Linked DNA regions of Homo sapiens: region 2 is linked to region 1. Evidence: fine-mapped expression QTL. A gene starts in region 1. The other region holds a variant in brackets. All regions are shown on one strand. Distances are between the middles of the regions.

The links.
Region 2: its variant is fine-mapped to the expression of B3GAT1 in whole blood (TOPMed, PIP 0.94).

Annotation. Positions count from the first base shown.
Region 1 is chr11:134,406,718-134,417,063 of GRCh38, forward strand. B3GAT1 (beta-1,3-glucuronyltransferase 1) reads right to left here and starts at 5,525. Exons shown (of 6, transcript NM_054025.3): 1 at 5,090-5,525. RefSeq lists an enhancer at 4,114-4,673.
Region 2 is chr11:134,380,491-134,390,836 of GRCh38, forward strand. B3GAT1 (beta-1,3-glucuronyltransferase 1) reads right to left here. Exons shown (of 6, transcript NM_054025.3): 2 at 7,058-7,450; 3 at 3,190-3,698; 4 at 2,220-2,516; 5 at 1,434-1,534; 6 at 1-257. The coding sequence starts at 7,169. The coding sequence ends at 1,448. Among named protein-coding and RNA genes, the nearest start is that of B3GAT1, 27 kb to the right of the region's middle. The variant C/T (reference allele first, on the strand shown) is at 5,595.

The sequences.
Region 1 (10,346 bases):
ACATCCTATTATTACCCTCATTTTAAAAGTGAGAAGTCTGAGGCACAGAGAGGTTAAGCAACGTCCTGAGGCCACACAGCTACTAAGTGGCAGAACTAGGACCTGAATCCAGCCAGTAGGACCTGGCACTTAGCCACCCTGCCAAAACACCTGTGCAGGCTCCGGTCCACAACACTCTGCCCACTAGAACTTTCCGTGCCCAAAACACCTGTGCAGGCTCAGGTCCACAACACTCTGCCCACTAGAACTTTCCGTGCCCAAAACACCTGTGCAGGCTCAGGTCCACAACACTCTGCCCACTAGAACTTTCCGTGCTGCCGGGAACGTTCTGTATCTGTACCGCCCAAGATGGCAGCCTCTAGCCACATGTGGCTGTTGCCCACTTGAAATGTGGCTGGTGTGACTGAGGAGCTGCTCAGGGTGGGGACGGATGCAGCCCCCCATGCCCAGTGTGGGGCTCTAACAGTTTCTGAACAATGGACAAATGAGTAGCCCAGGGTTCAAAGAGAGACTCATGGCCTCAGAGGCCAGATTGCTCACCTGCCACAGACAGAGGAAGCAAGATGGGCAGAGGGGAAGGAGAGGACCCCAGCCCACATAGCCAGCCAGAGAGGACGGGCAGAGCCAGGCCTCCAACTACAGTGCCATTGGCACTCCCCACGCCGTGCCGTCATGTCTCCACTCCCCCATCCCTCTAGGTCTTCTTCCTGTGAGCAGAGAGCTGGCTCACATTTCCCACGTATGAGAAGAGAGAGCTCCTGCCATGGCTCAGAAGACTGAGCCGTGGAATCCACAGCCCCCTGGGCAAGGTTAGTCCTCAAATCCAGTCAACTCTTGATCCAGACTCATACTCTCCACTTTTGCGCTTATCAGAGGTAAAGCCTTAATCCCTGCCAGGCACTTGGCGCGGAGGCTGCCTCCTGCCCTGCTGTCAGCTGGTGTGTGCGCAGGGAGCGCAGGCTCATTTTAATATTGGCTGGAGCTAAACCTCATTAGAAAAGTAAATTTGCTGTAGCTGCAAAAAAAAAAAAAGCAACCCACATAACCCTTCCAAAGCTAAACAGAAAACACTAGATTTGGACTTTTGGATTATTTGATGTTTCACGTTCCCAGCACCTGGTGCAGAGCCTCCAACACCGTAAGTGCTTGGTCAGTGTTGGTGCAAGTGAACTGAATTTTGGGGGCTCTCTGACCACCCTGTCACCTTTCAGCATGGATAAGAAGGGCTCACAGATCTGGAATTTTGGTGTCAAGATTTTTTTTTTTAGACGACCATTTGCTGATAAATTGGAAGGATTACATTTAACAATAATTAGACACGAAAGTATTATTTTGTGTTTGGCAAGGACGAACTCTGAGCCAAGGCGGGCTCTGGGTTCTTTGGGTTGGGATAAGGAAGGGTGGGTCCAGCCCAGAGTCTGGAGGTGTGAGGACTCAAGCGGGTGAGGAGGGAGGTGGGACAGCCTGCACCGATTCCAGTGGGGTGAGGAGGGAGGTGGGACAGCCTGCACCTATTCTAGTGGGGTGAAGAGGGAGGTGGGACAGCCTGCACCGATTCCAGTGGGGTGAGGAGGGAGGTGGGACAGCCTGCACCGATTCCAGTGGGGTGAGGAGGGAGGTGGGACAGCCTGCACCGATTCCAGTGGGGTGAGGAGGGAGGTGGGACAGCCTCCACCGATTCCAGTGGGGTGAGGAGGGAGGTGGGACAGCCTGCACCGACTCCAGTGGGGTGAGGAGGGAGGTGGGACAGCCTGCACCGATTCCAGTGGGGTGAGGAGGGAGGTGGGACAGCCTGCACCGATTCCAGTGGGGTGAGGAGGGAGGTGGGATAGCCTGCACCTATTCCAGTGGGGTGAGGAGGGAGGTGGGACAGCCTGCACCTATTCCAGTGGGGTGAGGAGGGAGGTGGGACAGCCTGCACCGATTCCAGTGGGGTGAGGAGGGAGGTGGGATAGCCTGCACCTATTCCAGTGGGGTGAGGAGGGAGGTGGGACAGCCTGCACCGATTCCAGTGGGGTGAGGAGGGAGGTGGGACAGCCTGCACCTATTCCAGTGGGGTGAGGAGGGAGGTGGGACAGCCTGCACCGACTCCAGTGGGGTGAGGAGGGAGGTGGGACAGCCTGCACCTATTCCAGTGGGGTGAGGAGGGAGGTGGGACAGCCTGCACCGATTCCAGTGGGGTGAGGAGGGAGGTGGGATAGCCTCCACCTATTCCAGTGGGGTGAGGAGGGAGGTGGGACAGCCTGCACCGATTCCAGTGGGATTGGCTCCAGGGCTGGCCTGACGCTGCTACTCCAAATTCTAGAGCCATCCTCATCCTGGAAGCAAGGGGGTGAGGGTGTATAAAATAAATAGATTAAATTAAAATTCATCTAGTATTTCTTCTAAAAACTGGTGAGATGACAGTTTCCCAATTTATAGACTGCCAGGAAGCCGGGGCTTAGAGAGCTCTGTTTTTTTCAAAGTCTACTCGGCTAGCCACAGATGGAGATGAGACTGGACCTCAGACAGCCTGGCCAAGGGCCTGTCCCCACTGCACTTCTTCCATGTCCCCTGGCTAGTCTTCAGTAGGGTCCCCAAAGGTCTTTTTGCCTGGGGGCCTGGGGAGGGGGTGCATGACTTCTCTTCTTCTCCTGAGTGCCAGGTTTCCCCAGACCCCACATCCTTCCCCACTGCCCTGCATTCCAGGACCAGGAGGGCTGGGGCAGGGCCAGAAGATGGAGAGGAGCCCTCAGCATTGTGAGATGCTCAGGGGTGAAGGGTGTCCCTGAAAGTCCCTGCAAGCTCTTGATGTGCTTGACCTCATAGCCTGGCCTCCCTCTGCCTTTGGGCTTCTGTCTAAAAGACCCTCACATTCCTGAGAGCCACAGGAAAGCACCTTCCTCAGTAGAATGTCCAACTGCTCTAGTGAGGGGCCTCCTGCAGGGGTGGACAATTGCTGAGGTCGATGTAGGGGAACAGGGGGAGGCCCCCAGCCTGCCCCAACTCACCACTCAGTCAGGGAGGCCCTGACTTCTGCCTGTGTGCCTCCCTCTGCTGTCCGCCAGTGCGCCTCCGTGCCTTTGTCTCTTGTCTCACTGCCTCTTTCTCTGCCTCAGTCAGGCTCTCTCTCGGATTCCTCCTCCTCCTGAGCCCGTTCCTCTCCTCCTCTCCATTCTCATCAGAGAGGAACACTCATCCCTCTCTTCCAGAAACAATGGAGCACCATGCTCCTGTCCGCTCAGCCTTTCGGTTGGTGCATCCTCTTCCCCATCTCACACTCCCAGCTCCTGGCCGGCCTCATCACCCTGTGCTCCACACCTAGGAAAAGTATATCTGACTTGGTCCCCTTATCCCCGAGAAACCACTAAGAGAACCTTCAGGTCTCCCCAGAAGCCGAAGCTGAGGAACTGGGCTTGCCCCAGGGCATCCTCCTGTGAAGCTCCTTGGTCTCCGCCACGGGCTCCAATCCTGTTGCTGGAGCTTATCTCCTCAGTGATTTACCTGCCCCCTGCTTCTGGTGGAACAGTGAGTAACTGCCCAACCAGAAACCTACACACACATATTCAACACAGCGCCTGCAAGCTTCCAGCTCACCTGGACCTGGAGTGATCCCCAAGCATCCTGGGGTCAGGCACAGAAACAGGAACAGCGAGCTCCTGGCTCCAGTGCTGAATGGGGCACAGATGCATTAACTCTCCCAGTCCCATTAACCTTAGCAAGTATTTCTGCTTCCATGAAAAGGGGAAGAGGGAAAATGTCTCTAAGCTCTGGAACCTTTGGCAGTGCTGGGCATGGACTGGGCAGAGTGAGAAGTCTGTCTGAAGACCCTGGGAAAGGGTCTTCACCCCATGGGAAGAAAGGGAAGGCTTGATGTTTGGTCCAGTAAGGCCATTAATGGTCACCAACTGAGCAGACTCTGGGAGGAAATGTCTCAGTCTCTGCAGTGGCTACCAGCAGAGGTAGGGCGACATAAGCACAGAAGACAAATCTTAGAAAACCCTAGAACAACAGTCCTGTGCAGCCACATGCCCCACAGCCCTAGTAACTTAGGGAGTGATGTGCCTCCCATTTCCACACAAACACATCCAGGCATTGCACAGTGCTAGGCCCTACGACATCCGTACCCCAACATTTTCAACAGTGCGTGCTACACAGCCCAAGCTCTAGGCCCCATTGGGCACCCCACCTATGCAGGTGCCCATGCACTGGGCTAGCAACTGTCAGTAAAGGTCCCCTTCCTGTATGTCCAGAGTCCTTCAGCTCCAGCTTCTACAAGAATCCATGCAGCTAGGCCTGGCTGGGGGAGGAAGGGGACAGGGAAGTTGGCCAAGGCTCCCATGTGTGTGCATGTGGGGGTGGTTCTTGACCTTAGCTGCTTGGTACGGGGCTGTCACCTCCTTACCCTGGCACTGTCGGACCTGGTGGCTTCCTTCTCTATTTCCTGCCTCAACTCTCAGCCTCCTTTTTCTGGAAGTTGTGTGCTCTGACTTTGGAGGGATTGGGACCTCAGACCTGAGCCCAGGTGCAGATGGGAGGGTGGTGAACTGGTCGCGCCTCCTTCCTCCTTGCTACACCGAAGGTCCCAAGGGCCCTTTGCCACCCTTGCTACCCCTGGGTCCCTCAGCGCGCCCCGCAGAGCTCGGGCCCCCTCAAGAGAGTTAACTTGGCAGTGCCCAGGAGCCAGAGAGCGATCCAGAGAGCGCTGTTGGGCAGCAGGGGTGGGGAGGTGGGGGACGACTGACCCCTGACTCCTCATCCGGCCACCAGAAACCACCTGCTGAGGGGGCCGGGAACTGACGACTGAGAGCCCGGGCCGATTGTTAGAAGCTGCTGAGAACCAGCTCTTCCCCTAATCCCGGTCGACGAGGGCAGGCTGTGCCGGGTTTTGTTTCGCAGCCCCTCGGCAGCAGCGCCTCCCAGCCCGAGCTCGGTTCTCGGCCCCCTTTCCAGCTGCCCCCAGCGCGCGCAGCGCACACACACACACACACACACACACACACACACACCCCAGCGCGCGCCCGGGAGGACATGGCGTGGGCACCGATGGGGACGCAGAAAGGGGCTCTGTGCGCGGCGGGGCGCCCGCGGGGGCGCGGGGAGCACTGACCTGCGGCGACGAGTCCGGAGCGTCTCCGGTGCGGTCCATCGCGGGCAACGGCCCCTACGCCCCGGCCCCGGCGCCCCTAGACCGCTGCCCTGGGCCGCGTGCGGCTCCCTCCCCGGGGACTGTCGGGCTCCGGGCCCCCGGGGGCCACTTCATAGCCGCGGGGTCCGCGCGCCCGCCCGCCCCGCCCGGCCCCGCCGCCCCGGCCCGGCTCGTTCTGGGCTCAGCGAGGCGGCGGCCGAAGGCTGGGAGCGCGCGGGAGGGAGGGCGCGGGCAGGGAGGCGGGGGGCGGGGGGCGGGGAGGGGGAGCGGGGAGGGGGAGCGGGGAGCGGGCGCGGGGGCGAGAGGGGCGAGGGGGGCGCGCGGCCGGAGCCGAGCCGACCGGGCCGGCGCAGAGTCCCCGAGGTGGCGGCGGATGCGCCGGTGCCGCCGCGGCTCTGCCGGCGCCTCCCGCCCCGCCCCCACCCGCTCTCCGCCCCCGCCCCGCCCCCGCCCCGAGCCCGCGCCAGCGCCGGCGGGACCCGAGCTGCTAATGGTCGGTACCAACCTCGCCAGCCTAGGCGGGGGCGCGAGGAGGGAGGCCGGCGAGGGGACCCCCCCCCGGGATTGGTATCACCTCCCCACCGCCCCCCACCCTCCCCCGGCACCGTCCCCCGCGGAGGCGGCTCCCGCTTCAGGCGGCGGAGCAGGGGTGGCGGGCAGGGGCCGAGCGCACCCCCAGATCTCGGCTCTCGAGAGTTAAAGCTCGGCCCCCGCCTGCACCCCCATTCCACCCCGCCTCCATCCTGGCTGCTCCTGGCGCCCAGCTTGGCAGCCTCTCTCAAAGGGTGATTGTTTCCGGCCGGGCTGCTGCAGGAGGGCGGGGGGCGGCGCTCTGGGACCGAGAGGCCGAGCTGGGAAGCCGGTGGGGGATGCGGCTCCTTCCTTGGCTCCAGGCACCCCGGATGGGAGGTGGCCGGTGGGGGCGGACGGTGCCGTGCCGGGGTACGGGGTCTGCTGCCCCGTGGAAGGGCACCTCGAGCCGCCGCGCGTCAGCCTCACCCCAGCCTCCCCTTCCGGGCCGGTGCACCCGGCGTTCCGGAGAGAGGCCCGGGAGGCCTGCGTGGGCGGACGGGCGCGGGGAGGCCGGGGGCAGCGGGATCTCCAGGAGTTTCCCGGGCCTCTGCCGCGGTGTGTTGGTCGGCGGGGGACGGAGGCCAGTGAGTGGGCGCGCACTTGGACGTATGTGGGTGCACTGGTAGGGTGCCTCTGTGGAGCTGTATATTCCAGATACTCCTTCAGCTTGTCGGAGACTTTGAAGCCATCCTTGCACTCGTTTTAGAGGTTGGCATCTCCCGGTGCTCTTGGACACCTGTATTCGGGCCACACCCGCTGTGTCCTCTTCACAGCCCCAGGAGAAGGCCACCTCCCATGGCGGGGTTCGCGGCGGGACCAGGGACTGTCGGTACTTTCTCTAGGGTCTCCCTCCTTCCCGGGAAACCAGTTCCAGCCCCACTGCTAGGCACTGCTTAACCAGAGCTGTGCCCCCGTGCTATGGGCTGGGGCTGAGGACCACGGGCCTCTTTTCCATCAGCTTTCCTGCCCTGTTAGGACCAAGCCGGGCCCTGCTCTTCCCACTGAGGATGTGCAGGTGGGGAGGGGGCAGAGACTCCAGAATCAGCCCCTTTGGTCAAGATTTTGAGGGGAGGAAGGCACCTCACCGTCCGTATCATGCCACAGACATGTGAAAGTGTCCTTAGTGACTATCTCTAGGGATAACTGCTCCTCCTTGTCGTGCGCTCTTTCATTGTTGTGCTTAACAGCCCCCTTTGCCGGCAAGAAACTTCCTCTGAATCTAACCTCAGTACCTCCTGCTGCGGTACAGGAGCATTTCCCCCTTCTCTTAATGAGTGGAATCCCAGCCAGCCTTGCTCCGCCTTCTTCTGCCCCTACTACAACCCTCTCTTTTAGACTCTGCTAAGAGACCTTTCCTAAGTCGGTGTTCTCTGGTATTTTCCTAGTCTCCATACTCTGCTTCTCCTTAGACTCCACACCAGCTGAAGGGAGGGGAAGGGCAGGTGCAGAAGCAGGATGGGCGGGGGTACCAGAGAGCACCAAGGAGGGGCCAGGCCGTCCAGGAGGGCACATTGCCTCCCTCCTCTGCTAAGCCAGCCAGCCGCAGTCACACAATCACCAAATGGGAGGACAGAAATGACCGTGAAGACTGTCTCGTTCCAGACCCTCATTTTACCAACAGGGAAACACACCCATGAGGGGTGATCTCAAGAGAGCTCAGGGACATGGCGACGAGGAGGCCTGGGTTTCAGGCCGATTCTGAAGGCACTAGCAAAAGACTTCCCCTCAGGGCTGGTTTCAGTAATGAAACAGAGGGTTGGACTAAGTGGGCTGTGGTCCGACTTGTCCTGCTGGGCTGTGGCTCGGAGATGCTGTCTGCAGGGGTTCTCGGCTTTACCTCAGCATTCTGGCAGGAACAATTGTGATAATAAAGCCGCTTTCAAGGGACCTGTCTTGCATCTTAGTTCCAGGCTCTGTTTACAGAATTTTTAGTATTAATTTTTAGAGCCAATTTAAAACAATAATAGGAGATTAAAATTAGCATGATAAGGCTCAGTGAAGAGACAACAGCCTGCCATTCGTTTTGGTGGGAAGTTTTGGCAACATCCCAAGTGTATGGACACACACAAATGTACTGACATCTACGCAGGCACAAAACATGCTCATAGAGGCAGCTACACATGCAGATTCACCCACATGAACACACACACACACTCTGAAATACATCATGTGCACATGTAAACGCTTGCACACGGATGTACCTGAAGCACCTGCACCCACACAGACACACGTGTACACACACCATCCCCCGGGTCAGCCACACTCCCACCCCTGTCTTCCTGCTTGGCCTCTGCAGGACTGTGGAAATCCTTCCCTCCCATGTCTGGACTTGGTGCATCCTCACAGCTTGACCCTTGCTCCAAACATCTGGAGCACCTCTAAGGTCTCCCTGAATGATTGATCTTCCCCTCCCCCTGCCTTCCCTGCCAGTAGTGAGCCCCTCTTCTCAGAGGCCCCCAAAGCCTAGCACCAGCATGTTTAGTATGCAAAGCCCGGGTTTGTCCTCTGGGACAAACCGTTATGTGTTTATTGTGTAGTTAAGCAGGACGGGAGCCCTGCCCCCGCTCTGATCCTGGCCCACTTCCCATAATCTGAATCCCAGAAGAGTCCTGTAAAACCGTCATCTGCAATGCAAAACCTGCAAAACATCTGGGATGGTCTGTAGGTTTTCTCCAAATCACCTGTGCCCTAATTTAATATGAATAACAATTAGTTTACTCTTATCAGTTAATTGTTCCCCTCGTGGGTTCTGTCTGCCCTGGCCTCTCTTTCAGCAGGAGTTTTGGTCTGCTCCAGACTCCTAATGATACTGCCTTTTCAGCCGTGCCGTCCTTCTTAGCTACCACCCAAGAGAGGCAACGCAGCTGCGCTGCTTGCCGCCCTGGCCTGTGGGGCCCAGGCCCTCACCCCACCCGTCTTAGCCAGTCTGATTGTTGGGGGCCATCCAATCTCCCCTTGCCTTCACCAGGAATCTATAGCAGTGATTTTGCTGATGTGAGTGGAAAGGTCCCAGTGGGATTCTTCAGTGAGGAATCCCACCCCACAAGGTGCCCGTCCTCTCCCGTCATTGCCCTGGCAAGGGTGACAGCACATGCACATGCATGGGCACACCCAGATGCTGCCAGAGAGCAGGGGGAGTGAGAGGAGGAAGAGCTGCCCTCTGCCTCGGCAGGCAGGGTGAGCTCCCCAGGGACCCAGCCATGCTATCAGGCGTGTCTGAACTGTTCCCACAGTGGCTCCTGGACGGATGTGTGTGGATGTGCTGTTTTGGGTGGTGGAGTTCATGGCCCAGATACAGAAAGAGGAGGAGACCTTTTAACTCTTCCCTTTCATTAGGTTTCTGGTCTGAGCTTTGGATCTTGAACACCCTTGTTTGTCCATAAAAAATTGAAAATGGTCATGTGGTCAACAGGTTTCCCTCTGCCCTCCTCTCTTCTCAGAAGCCAGGCCGGCATCTTTCCTGAGCTGGTGCAAAAAGGCTGACTCCTGCTTCTCTCCAGTCTCTGCCTCCAGGGAAAGGGTGCAGTTACATGGCTTTAGAACACTTCAGTCATGTCATTTTGTTTTGCCTTCTTTCCTCTGTGGCTGAGGGAGGGATGAGAGGTGATAGGAGCAGAGCCCTCAGACTTAGGGGAGCATCTCTGAGGCTAACCTGGGACCGTTCTTTGTCCTCTTGCAGAAGTGAAAATAACCCAGATTGCCTTTTGACCTCCCCACTATCCCCTAACTACTCTGCAGAGCCCACACCTCCAAAGTCTCACTGAAGCCTTTCCCAACCTGAGCTCTGTGGCTTGTGCTGTCTCCTATAGCCCTCCCGACCCTCAGGCACCTCTGGCAGTGAACTGCTCTTCCCCTCAGTCCCATAGCACTTTATCCGGACACATCTGGAGGCTCTTACCCATCTGTGCATGCTTTCCTGTGTTCAGCTAATATTTACTGAGCTCCAGTCATATGCCAGGCACTGTGCTGGGCACCAGAGACATGCAGTAAACAACAGCAATTAGGAGTGTTAACTTCAATTAGGCCATTTATATGTATGCACCAGGTTAGGTTCCAAGTCTTCATGCACGTTAGCTAATTTCATATGTAAGGTGTTATTTACAAGGTACTGTTTGTGACAAGTTTCGATTATAGTTTCCATTTATAGGTCAGGAATCTGGGGCGTAGTATTTAGGTAATTTAATTAAGGTCACATGCCTAGTAAGTGACATAGCCAGCATTTGAGGCAGGCAGCCTAGTTCCAGGACTCAGGCTCATCGTCAGAGCACAACTCAGGGATTATATGCTAGTGGTCCATAGATGGGCAAATGCACAGAACAAACAGAGGTGGAGGAGATACAGGAAGGGAAGAAATAGGGTCAAGAGCTGGAGAGAGTCCTGGGAGGGTAGGATCAGGGAGAGGCTCTTTGAAGAGGCCATGTTTGAGCCAAAACCCGGGGGAATATTGGCCCAGCAAGGAGGACAGCGATAGGCGACCTGAGGGGTTTGCGGGAGGCTTGGTGTGCTTGAGGAACACGTGCAGCAGGTGAGGCTGGAGAGTGGAGAGAGAGGAGAGAGCCATGGGGAGCGGAAAGGACACTCTCTGCTTGGAGTTTGAGGATTCATGTGCGTGAGTGACCTCCTGCACTAGCGTCTTCCAGAGAGT
Region 2 (10,346 bases), 26 kb before region 1:
AGCTTGGCTGGTGCTGGACACCCCACCCTGGCCATCAGGTCTCTCGGGCCCTGGTCACGCTGGATGGAGAGAACAACAGGTCTGGGATTTCTGTGCTTAAATTCTCTGTCCTTTGTTCTGGCATCAGGCTGGGCTCTCTCAGAAGCCCCCAGAATAGAAAGGAGGGTGATGGTGATTCCTTAGGAGTCGGCCTTGGAGGGACCATCAGCCGTGGGGAGAGGATGGAAGGCCAAGAACAGGGTCTGAGGAGGAGGCTCCTGTGAGGGGAGAGGAGGAATGAGTGAGGTGTCGGCTGAGGGTGGGGCCGGGGAGGGAATGGCCAGGCAGGGCCACCAGGACCTCTGCAAAGCCCAGGCCCCCAGGTCCTGTGGGGGCCTTTCTGAGGGGCAGGTGGGGAAGGTGCTTCCAGTGAGGGCAGTGAGGGCAGGAGGCAGAAGTGAGGCTCGGTACAGATGCATTCTAAGTGGCGCTGGCCAAGGTGACTGAGTGACACCCTGTGGTCCTCTGCGGGCAAACACAATACAGAAGCTATTGCTTAGCTCCAGGGCAAGAGGACAAATGTCTGTCTCAGGCCTCAACCTCTGTTTGGCATAACCTAGAGTAGGGAGTCAGGAGTACCAGCTGCTTTTAAGAGACAGGATAAGATCACAGAAAAGCCCCTGAAAATGCCTGGCTTTGCCAACCACCCAGCACAATTCACTCGTGCCAGTGTGTCACCTTGGAACATTCATTTAGCTTCTCTCAACATCATTTCTTTGCTTCTGAAGTGTAGGTGGATCCTGTGGCCTACTTCCAGAGAGGGCTTTAAAGACTTGAATAAAAATAGCCACACTGATGAGATTTAAGTGCCATGAACTGTTCTAGGTGCTCTCAGCAACCTACTTCACAGATGAAGAAACTGAGGCCCAGAAAAGTCAAGTCAGGTCAAACAGTGAAGAGCAGGGGTCCTGGGAGCTGAGGTGGGCTCTGGGTCCGTGCTGTCACTCTGCGCTACCTCTCACTATGACAGCCGTGGGCTCATTGCTGTGGAGCAGCGAGTCCGTGAGTCCTCACCATGGCCACGTGGTGAAGGAATCCACAGGGGAAGAGGCAGACTTGGGGGGACAGACGCTGGCCAGCGAGAGTCTGAATGGCAGTGCCTTGTGGGGTGCAGGCGTCACTGCCAGCAGAAAAATCAGCAAGATGTTTGGAAGGTGACACCCTCTGAAGAGTCTGGTGGCAGAAGGACCCAGCTGCGTGGGTGAAAGTTAATGCCTGGATACTTTCAGGTGGCCCAGTGGGAAGGGGACTGTGGTGACGACGCCCTCCACTCCTGCCCACATCTGCCCTGTCCTCCACAGTGAAAGCCCAAGAGGAAAAGAATGAGACAGTTGATTCGGCCCAACCTGGTGCCGCCCTGCCCAGTGTGTGGCCCACCCTCGTCATGCCCATACCTGCATCCTGAGGCTCAGATCTCCACCGAGGGGTCAGTGAAGCCCTTCTTGCCCTCATTCACCAGCACTGGCTTCTCTGTCCGTGTGTGCCACACCAGGATCTGTGTGCCCAGAGATGCAAAACATGGTGGGACAGGCCCCTGACCTCACTCTGCTGCCTCCCTGCTCCCTCCCACACTGTGTAAACATTTCTCCTGCCCCTCCTTTTCCTTCGAGAGTTTTTCAATTGTTCCATCAAGATTTTCTCAATTGTTTTTTATTTATTTTCTGTGGCTCTCGACTACCCCCTCATTTTTGCTGTTTTTACATGTGATGCCTTCGGAATACCTGCTGGAAATGGGAAGTCTAGAACTACAGAAAAGAGAAGCCCCAAGACTTCCCAAGTGTGTGTGTGTGCATACGTATGCATGTTCATGTGCATATGTGTATATGTGCATGTCTGTGCATGTTCACCTGCATATATGTGTGCATGTGTGTGCATCTGCATGTGTGTGTGCGCACATGTGTGCACGCGTAGGCATGTGTGTGTGCATGAGTGCTCAGCAGGGAGGTGCTGGAGCACGGCTGTTCTGTGGGAGGTTATAACTCCCCAGTGGCCATTGCTCTCCCTTTCCCTGCCTGTCCGCAGTGTCGCTGCCTTACAGGTGATACACTGCCTTCCTGGGAGGGGGTTCCAGAAAGCCCAGGCTATTTTGAGGCCTCTGTTTCCTTCTCCCGATCTGTAGGGAGGGTCTGGATGTACTTGAGACATTGCATCACAGCTGTCAGTTCTGCGGAGGGTCTCACCTTGGTGCAGTTGGCTGCCTTGGGCTCCAGGTCGTTGAGGGTGACAAGTTCTCGAAGGAGGCTGCTTTCCTGGTAGCCTCCCTTCACACCTCGCAGCTTGAAGTAGGCCTGGCTTCGCTGCAGAATGAGCCGCAGGTTGACGGCAAATCCAGCCATGTCTATTGCAAATGGCCGGTGGGGGTCAAACACCGTCTTCCAGCCGACCACCTTCCCTGCCCCGTTCACCCGTGGGGCCTCGTACCGCAGGCCACCCACGAAGGCGACGGGCCACACGGACACCCTCCTGGTGCTGCGCATCTACAAGGGGGGGGTCCAGAGTCAGGGCGCCGGCACTGCAGATGAGGACGGCCGCGCGTGCCCAAGGGAGGCGACATCCTTCAGCCACCTCTATCTATGCCCATGGCCAGCCGCGGCCACCTAGGGGGTGTCCAGTACAGCCCTGCCCCCAGGACCCATCCCATGGGTTGGGCACCTGAGAAGAACCTGCCCTGGGCTGCCGGGGACACCTGACCTCTCAGACGGCCTGGTCTTCCCCTTCTCAGCGTGGCCCTGCTGCTGTTTTCTCCCTTGTCTAAAACCTTTCAGTCTCCCCGCTCTAGAGTGTGAAGTGACTCCCCTTGTCCCCGAGACTAACACAGCCCATATACTCAGGCGAGCTCCAACTGTTCCACCTAAGAGGTTTCTGGTAGTCACGCAGAATGACCTACTCACAAACCCATTCAGGAGATACCTCTAGGGCCAGGAATATGGTTTAGGGGCTCCAGAGCCACCTGTCTTCCCCCTAACTTGTGGGGGATGCTTTAGCCCGCAGTTCCATCCCTTTCCCTGGCTCTCTGCTGCCTGCCCCGCTCCCAGCCCGGCTTCCCGGGTTCCCCCTGCGCGCGCCTCCGCACCCACACCCCCTTCTCGGGAAGCCCCTCCACTCCCCGCAGCCGGAGGTCCCGCTGCTCACTGTCGGGCCCTCCCTCACCTCTTCGAAGAGCTCCAGGCTGTAGGTGTTGTCGTCGTCGGCGAAGTAGACCACGCCAGGCTGGCTGGAGTTGCGCGGGAAGGTCTCGCGCAGCCAGCGCAGGGCCAGGTTGCGCTGCATGGTGCCCCGCGGGATGCGTGGGTCGCGGGCGTCTCCGCGCAGCTTGTAGTTGCGGGGCGTCTCCACGTGCAGGTGCGTGTAGTTGAGGCCGGTGTCGCGCAGCAGGCGCGCGGTCAGCGGCGTCCGGCGCGGCGCATCCTCCACCACCAGCCAGTGGAGGTTGGGCACGTGCAGCAGCGTGTTGGCCATGCGCGTCAGCTCGGCCTTCTGCACCGGGCGGCTGTAGGTGGGCGTCACCACGTGGATGGTGGGCAGCGTGTCGGACCATGGCGGGGGCCGCGTGTACACGTACTCGGTGCGCACCACCTCCACGATGTCGCGGTCAGACGTGCAGTACTCCCTGGGGTCGGCGCCGGGCGGCGTTTCGCGTCGGGGGTCACTGCCCTCATCTGCGGAGTCGGGAGACCGGCGATGTGGGAGGAGAGCGCCGGCTACGGCCCTGGATTCAGAGCGGGACGCCACCCACCCTGCCAGGGCACCCTCCTCCTCCCCCGCTGCAGGGGCTGCTCAGACCCCCGCCTTGCCTGACCTGTTAGCTCTAAGGTTGAAATCTGCAGCCCTGGAATCCTCTCTGGGAGGGTCCTAGCTCTGATGACACAGACATAACCTCTTCCTTCCCACCTTTGCAGCCCTCTAGCTATTTGAGCGCAGTTGCCCATATTCCAAGATTGCATCCTCAGTTCCTGAATGTGCTGACTTTCCTATGAAAAGGCGTCCCGACCCTCCCCTCCCTAGCCCTACTCATCTGGAGGGAGCTGGCCACACTGCCCTGTGCAGGGCTGGGCTAGCAGAGCACGTGGCACTGCCCCGCTGTGGTGTGGACGCCACAAAGCCCCAGGGCCGCAGCACTGCGGCAGCAACCAGGGCCCACTGTGGGCCCGCAGGAGCCTGAGGCAGCTCCCGGAGTTCTCAAGCCCTCCAGTCAAGCGGGGCCTCTTCCCTCCTGGCCTTACGTAAGGCATTCTCTGAATCTCGGTGCAGAACTTCCTATTTCACCGCATTTTATTCTCGTGGGTTTTGCCCATAGTTGCCAAGGTATATGTAGATCTAGCAGTCCTAGCAAGAGGAGAAATCAGGGCCATTGGGATTCTTGTTTTCCATGCGTCCCTTCTCTCCAAATTCTGTCCTTCCATCGGAAGGGCTCATGCACCAATGACGGTGTGGCCCTCCTGTCCTAGCTTACCGTCGGGTGGTAAAGGTAAGAAATCCCGGTGCCTGGGCTGAGACCCTGCCCACTTCTGCCGTTACGAACCCTGTGCCCTTGAGCAAGCTGCTTAGCTTCTGGCGCCTCAATTTCAGCAACTGTAAAATGGAGCTAATAATAGCATCGAACTTATCGAGTTATTATGTGGATTAATGAGTCCACAAGGGCTGAGAGCACCGCCAGGCACAGTTTCCTCTCTTGCGGAAGGGCAGTGGCCAACTCTGCTTCCTTCTGGCTTCAGGCAATCGGTGGGGACAGAACCAGCAAGTCACACCAAAGGGGAGGACCCCGGGCATCAGCTCTTCTGCTGCCTCCCTCCGGCCACTGTCATCGGCAGCATGTGGGGTGTGTGGCACGCTAGCGTGGAGCTCATCTGAACGGACCCAGGAGGCCTGCTCGTGGCTCTTCAGGAGTTCTCATGGGCAAATGGCACCAGGCACACAGCAATTGCTGAGGGTCGGGGGAGGAAACCAGCACACACGCAGTCGCTCAGAGGGGGCTGCTTAGAGGAGTCTGGGGTCAAACTGTGAGAAGAGCAACGTGGAAGAAAGCGGGATGGGTGTCTAGGGTTCTGACCTAGACAGAGGACTTAATTCATCCTATGGGCAGTCAAGTTTTGGAAACTGAGGCCTTGAGAGGAAGTTTGGAGCCACTTTGTCCACCTCTCTGCCACCCAAATCATCCCAAGGCCGCAGAGGACCTGTGCCCTTGGACAGTCCCCATACATTAGGGCACGGCTACTGCGTGTGCTCCTGGGCTTCGCCCTTCCCATTGGCTTCAGGGCGTCTGCAATTTTGGGTCCTAAAGGCCTCCTGGTGACCCTAACTTCACTCAGCTGCAGCTTTCATTCGCTTGCTCTTGGCATGCTCTGGGGAGACAGAATGCCAAGTCCCCAGCCTCAGGCAGCACCATCAGTGCTTAGCAAACAGCCTGACGTCTCCAGCGCTGGAGCTCTGCCAAGAACGCAATCGACACGATATCATGTCGCTTTATATATAGTAGTTTTAACCCCTCTGGAGTGATGTATTTGCAAGATAACAATGATTCTGAACTGACAAGCACAGAGAAGAGGCCCTAGGGT[C/T]GGGAGGAGAGGATGATGTCAGGAAGACAGGCGCCAAGTGCCAGCCACGGGCAGTGGGCTGCCGCAATGTTGAGCTTGGCCCTTCCTCATGGAAGCTTCAGGAACAGCTATGGGTTTGCAGGACTTGGTATTTGACTGTGAGGAGCAGCACGACTTCAGGCTGTGATTTTTGGACACTGCCTGCATCTTGGGGTTACAGGCACTCACCACCTCTCTCTGCATGGGCTTGGTGCTGCCTTCTTGTTTATCACACTGCCAGGTGGTATCATGCACGCTGCAAACGAACAGCTGCCTGACCCCACGTGAGCCTGTGCATGTAAGTGGGGGAGGGGGCAGAAAAGCACGAGACAAAGTGCTGAAGAGCTGGGGCAGCCAGCTGTGGGGTGCGTGGCAGGTTTGGGAGTGAGAGGGAAAGGCGACCCAGGACCCAGAGCCAGGGGAAAGGAGTTCTACCCCTAGTTCTTCCACTAGTTCTTCACGGGACTTTTCCTCTCTCCAGCCCTATTTCCACCAGGTAGCACTAGATCAGGGTTTCCTACACAGGAAAAGAAGAGAGGCAAACAATATACTCTCTGTGAAAGGGTTTAAAACACACTGCAGGCCAGAAATCCTATTCCTCCCCCACCATCCACTTCAGAATGGTCGCTTTCCTTGCATGTCATGAAATGGCATGTGAAGTTGTACATGCGTGTCTTTCTGTGTATGTGTGTGTATTAATGATGTTTGTTTTTTAAGTTTTTCTGTATTTTAAGATGCGTCGACATCTTGGGGGACTTGCAGATATGGGGAGGGACTGCCCCTCCCGGGACTAGCTAATTCCTAGTGACAGTACACACCTTGCCTGCAAACACACTTTTCATATGCAAACTACCTGATCTAGAGCTCATACCCACTACCACCTTTATGGAGCTCTCCCACCCAAGCCAATCTTCCGCTGCCCTAAACCACCCCAGGGCGATACCAGACAATTAGAAACCACACCCATATCCTAAACCCACTGACTTTCTTCAGACTATGCAATTCTGGGCCAGCTCAGCTGCCGACAGTGCTTCGCCCTTCCCTTCCTATGAAAACCACTTTCCTTCCTACCAAAACCACACTAAAGACTCCCACTCCCTCCACTTCCCACCTCCCCCTCCCTTCACTTCCCACCTCCGACCTCAGCACTTCCCCAGGGGGCAGGGCGTGCCCCCTCCTCTTGGGTGCTGAGAGTAACAAGCTCTTCTTTCAAGGCAACTGTCTTGGTGTCTGCCAACCTACCATCCCAGGCATCTTAAAACTGTGTGGGTAGCTTCCATTAGCTTCCCATTCCCAAAGGGGTGCAAGACTCATGAAGGGGCCTAGATGATCCCGTGGTTCCTCCTAGCTGCTAAGTGAGTGCAAGCAAGAACCCTGCGTGTCAGCTGTGGTCACTGTCACTACCAAGGCCCAGCTGGGCAGGCAGGGCATGCGTGCGTGCTCACCCTTATGTACCGCGAGCAGGGGTGCGAGGGTGCTCTGGTGCCAGACAGTGATGAGCAGAGTCCAGGGCAGCACGATGAGGACGATCGCTAGGATGTCCCGTCTCTTCGGCATCTCCAAGGCTGGCTGCACCCACGGCTCCTCATTACCTGAGTGGCGGTAAGTTCAGGAGAGGGGCGGCCACGGGCGGCGGCAGCACAGGGGAGAAAAGAACAGGCATGGGCCGGGCCGGCCAGGCATGGAGAGGACAGAGCAGCTGAATGTTGGCTAGCAGGTCTTACCAGCACTCACAACCCACCCATTGCGGAAGCAGGTTTGGAGAGTCCGGCCCAACTGGAGTCTGAGAAGGGGTCGCTGTCCAGGGGCAGGGGTCAGGAACCCTGGGGGGTGGACACCTGCAAGAGAGAGCAGAAGCGGATAGCCAGAGACCCAGGTATAGGAATGGATGCCAGCAAGGCTGGGCCCTGCTCTGGGACACACAGCATCGGGGGTTCCACAATGGAGCCTCAACTGTCCATCACCTGAGGACCTCTTTTGTCTGCCTGTTAGAGTGGAATGGGCTCTGTCCTTCCCACAGGCACAGGGCCATGGCTCTGCTCCATTTATGAAAGTCAGTAGGGTGCAGGGGTCAGAAGCACAGACTGCAGAGACACCAGGTTTAAATCCCAACTGTGCCACCCACAGGCTGTAAGACCTTTGCCAAGTCATTTCCGTTCTCCATGCCACAGTTTTCCCATCTATAAAATGGGGCACTGTGGATCCCTACCTCATAAGGTCATTCTCAGAATTAAACAGGGTAACTCCCGTGCAGCCCTAAAATGCCAGCTACTTATCAAAGCCTGGATAAAGGGGTGAGAGGTTTTATTTTCTCTCTCTCTTTTTTCTTTTTTTTAACCATATATGGACCACGAATTATTATATTAAAAATAATTTCAACATTTTAGATTTGGGGGCACATGTGCAGGTTTGTTATGGGTCATATTGCATGTGATGCTGAGATCTGGAGTATGATGAATCCCGCTGCCCAGGTATGAGCATAGTACCCAACAGGGCGTTTTTCAGCCGTTCTTCCTTTGAGAGTCCTCAGTGTGTATTCTTCTCATGTTTACAGTCATGAGTACCCAGTGTTTAGCTCTCACTCATAAGTGAGAATGCATCGTGTTTGGTTTTCTGTTCCTGTGTCAATTTGCTCAGGATAATGGCCTCCAGCTGCATCCAGGCTGCTGCAAAGGCCATGATTTTGTCCTTTTTTATGGCTGTGTAGTATTCCTTGCTGTATATGCACCATGTTTTCTTTACCCAGTTCACCACTGATGGGCACCTAGATTGATTCCATGCCTTTGCTATTGGGAATAGTGCTGCGATGAACATACAGGTGCAGGTGTTTTTTTTGTGAAACACTTTATTTTCCTTTGGATACATACCCAGTAATGGGACTGCTGGCTAGAATGGCAGCTCTGTTTTAAGTTCTTGAGAGATCTCCAAATTGCTTTCCATAGTGGCTGAACTAATTTACATTCCCACCAACAGAGTATACGTGTTGCCTTTTCTCTGCAGCCTCATCAGCATCTAATATTTTTTGGCTTTTTAGTAATAGCCATTCTGACTGGTGTGAGATAGTATCTCACTGTGGTTTCAATTTGCATTTTGGTGACAGTCTTTTGAGGACAAAGAAGAGATGTTTCTGGGATGGTCCCTGGGGGGAAGTACGAGAGTGCCTTCCTCTTCCGTGTCAATAGGACATCCTTGTGGAGCACCGCTCTGTGCAGGACAGAGCACCAGGTGCTGGGCTGGGCAGCAGCAAGAAGAGGGGTCCCCGCAGGGGCTGCCACATTGAGGGGAGACAGTCCTCCAAAATGAGAACAGCAGGGGGCCCAAGTGAGGAGAATGAGCCACTGGGATTCCTCAGTCCTGCAGAGGGTCCACTGGTAGCATCTCTGGGAACCGTTCTCTCACATGGCAAGGACACTGGGCGAAGAGACCTCCTGACCGCCTTGGAAACTGTCACATCCTCTTCTCCTCCCTTTTCACTTCTGTGCTGAGCACCATGCATGATGCAGCAGGGACCCGTGGGGGTGGTGGGGAGGGCAGGCAGCCTCGGGCAGCCCAGCCAGCCTCACTGTGCCCACCCGTCCCAGTGCCCAGTGTTGGATACGGACAGTACCTCACCTGGGGGCCATGCTGCCTGCTCCTGCCCCAGCTCACGTGTGCTCACCATTTCAGGCAGAGTCGAGTGCTATGGCCGAGGAGGGTTTTTAGCCCCTGAGTTTCCAAAATAGCGTGTTTTCCTCTCCTCACCGGGTCCTCTCTCCAAATAGTTCTGACGCCTGTGGAAGACCAGGATTTGTCTTCCATTAAGGAGCACTGTGGTTTCCCGGGACGGCCGGCATCCCCTCCATTAAGGAGCACTGTGGTTTCCCAGGACGGCCGGCATCCCCTGCCCACACCCCGCCATCAGAGGCCCACTCCATCCAGAGAGTCTCCCCCACCCATTCCCCGGGGAGTGGAAGACCCACTGGGGTTCAACGTCACAGGCACGTAGTTCCCCTAGTGGACATTCTAGGCCGTGTGTGTCTGTGTCCGCCCGTAAACTCCTCTTTGCTGGCCCAGTGAGGGACAGAGCCTAGAACCCCACACGGGATGCCTGCTGGGTCTTGTGGTCTGAGATGCAAGTGACTTCATGCCACATCCCCCAGATTTAGCCTGTCCCTCCACACCCAGGCCACTGCTGGGGCTGCATGGGGCTGCGTGTCAAGACACGTTTTGGTTCTTTGGCCAAGACACGTTTGGATCTTAGGCCACATCTGATGAAGGATGGGGAGGCTGGGCCTGGCTGGGGCTTCAGAAATGTCCAGGAAGATTTCTTCTGTGTTCTCAGAGACTCTCGAAGGAGCTTTCTCAAGTGCTCCTGGTGTTGGTGCAGGTTCTAATACCAGGATGGAGAAAGCCAAGGAGAGAAGATGAGTGTCCTGCCAGCTCAGTCCCTGTGGGCCACTGCCTTTCCTTTGGGGCAGCCTCTCAGCCCCCGCTTGCACTGTTGTTTATACAAACTTCCCTATAGCATGAGAGATGTCCGAAGATGAGGCTCAGCTCTTCACATGCACCTGCTCCTGCAACGTCACAGCAGCCCTGTGCAGTAGGCATGGCTGTGGTCCCTGTGGGTTCATCGAGGCCAGAGAAGGGGAGTAACTTGCCTGAGGTCAACCATTAGGAAATGGTGGAGCTGGAATTGAGTCCAGGCCATCTGGCTCTATGCTGTCATCGGGGGCATAGGATAAGAGGTCCCAGGCC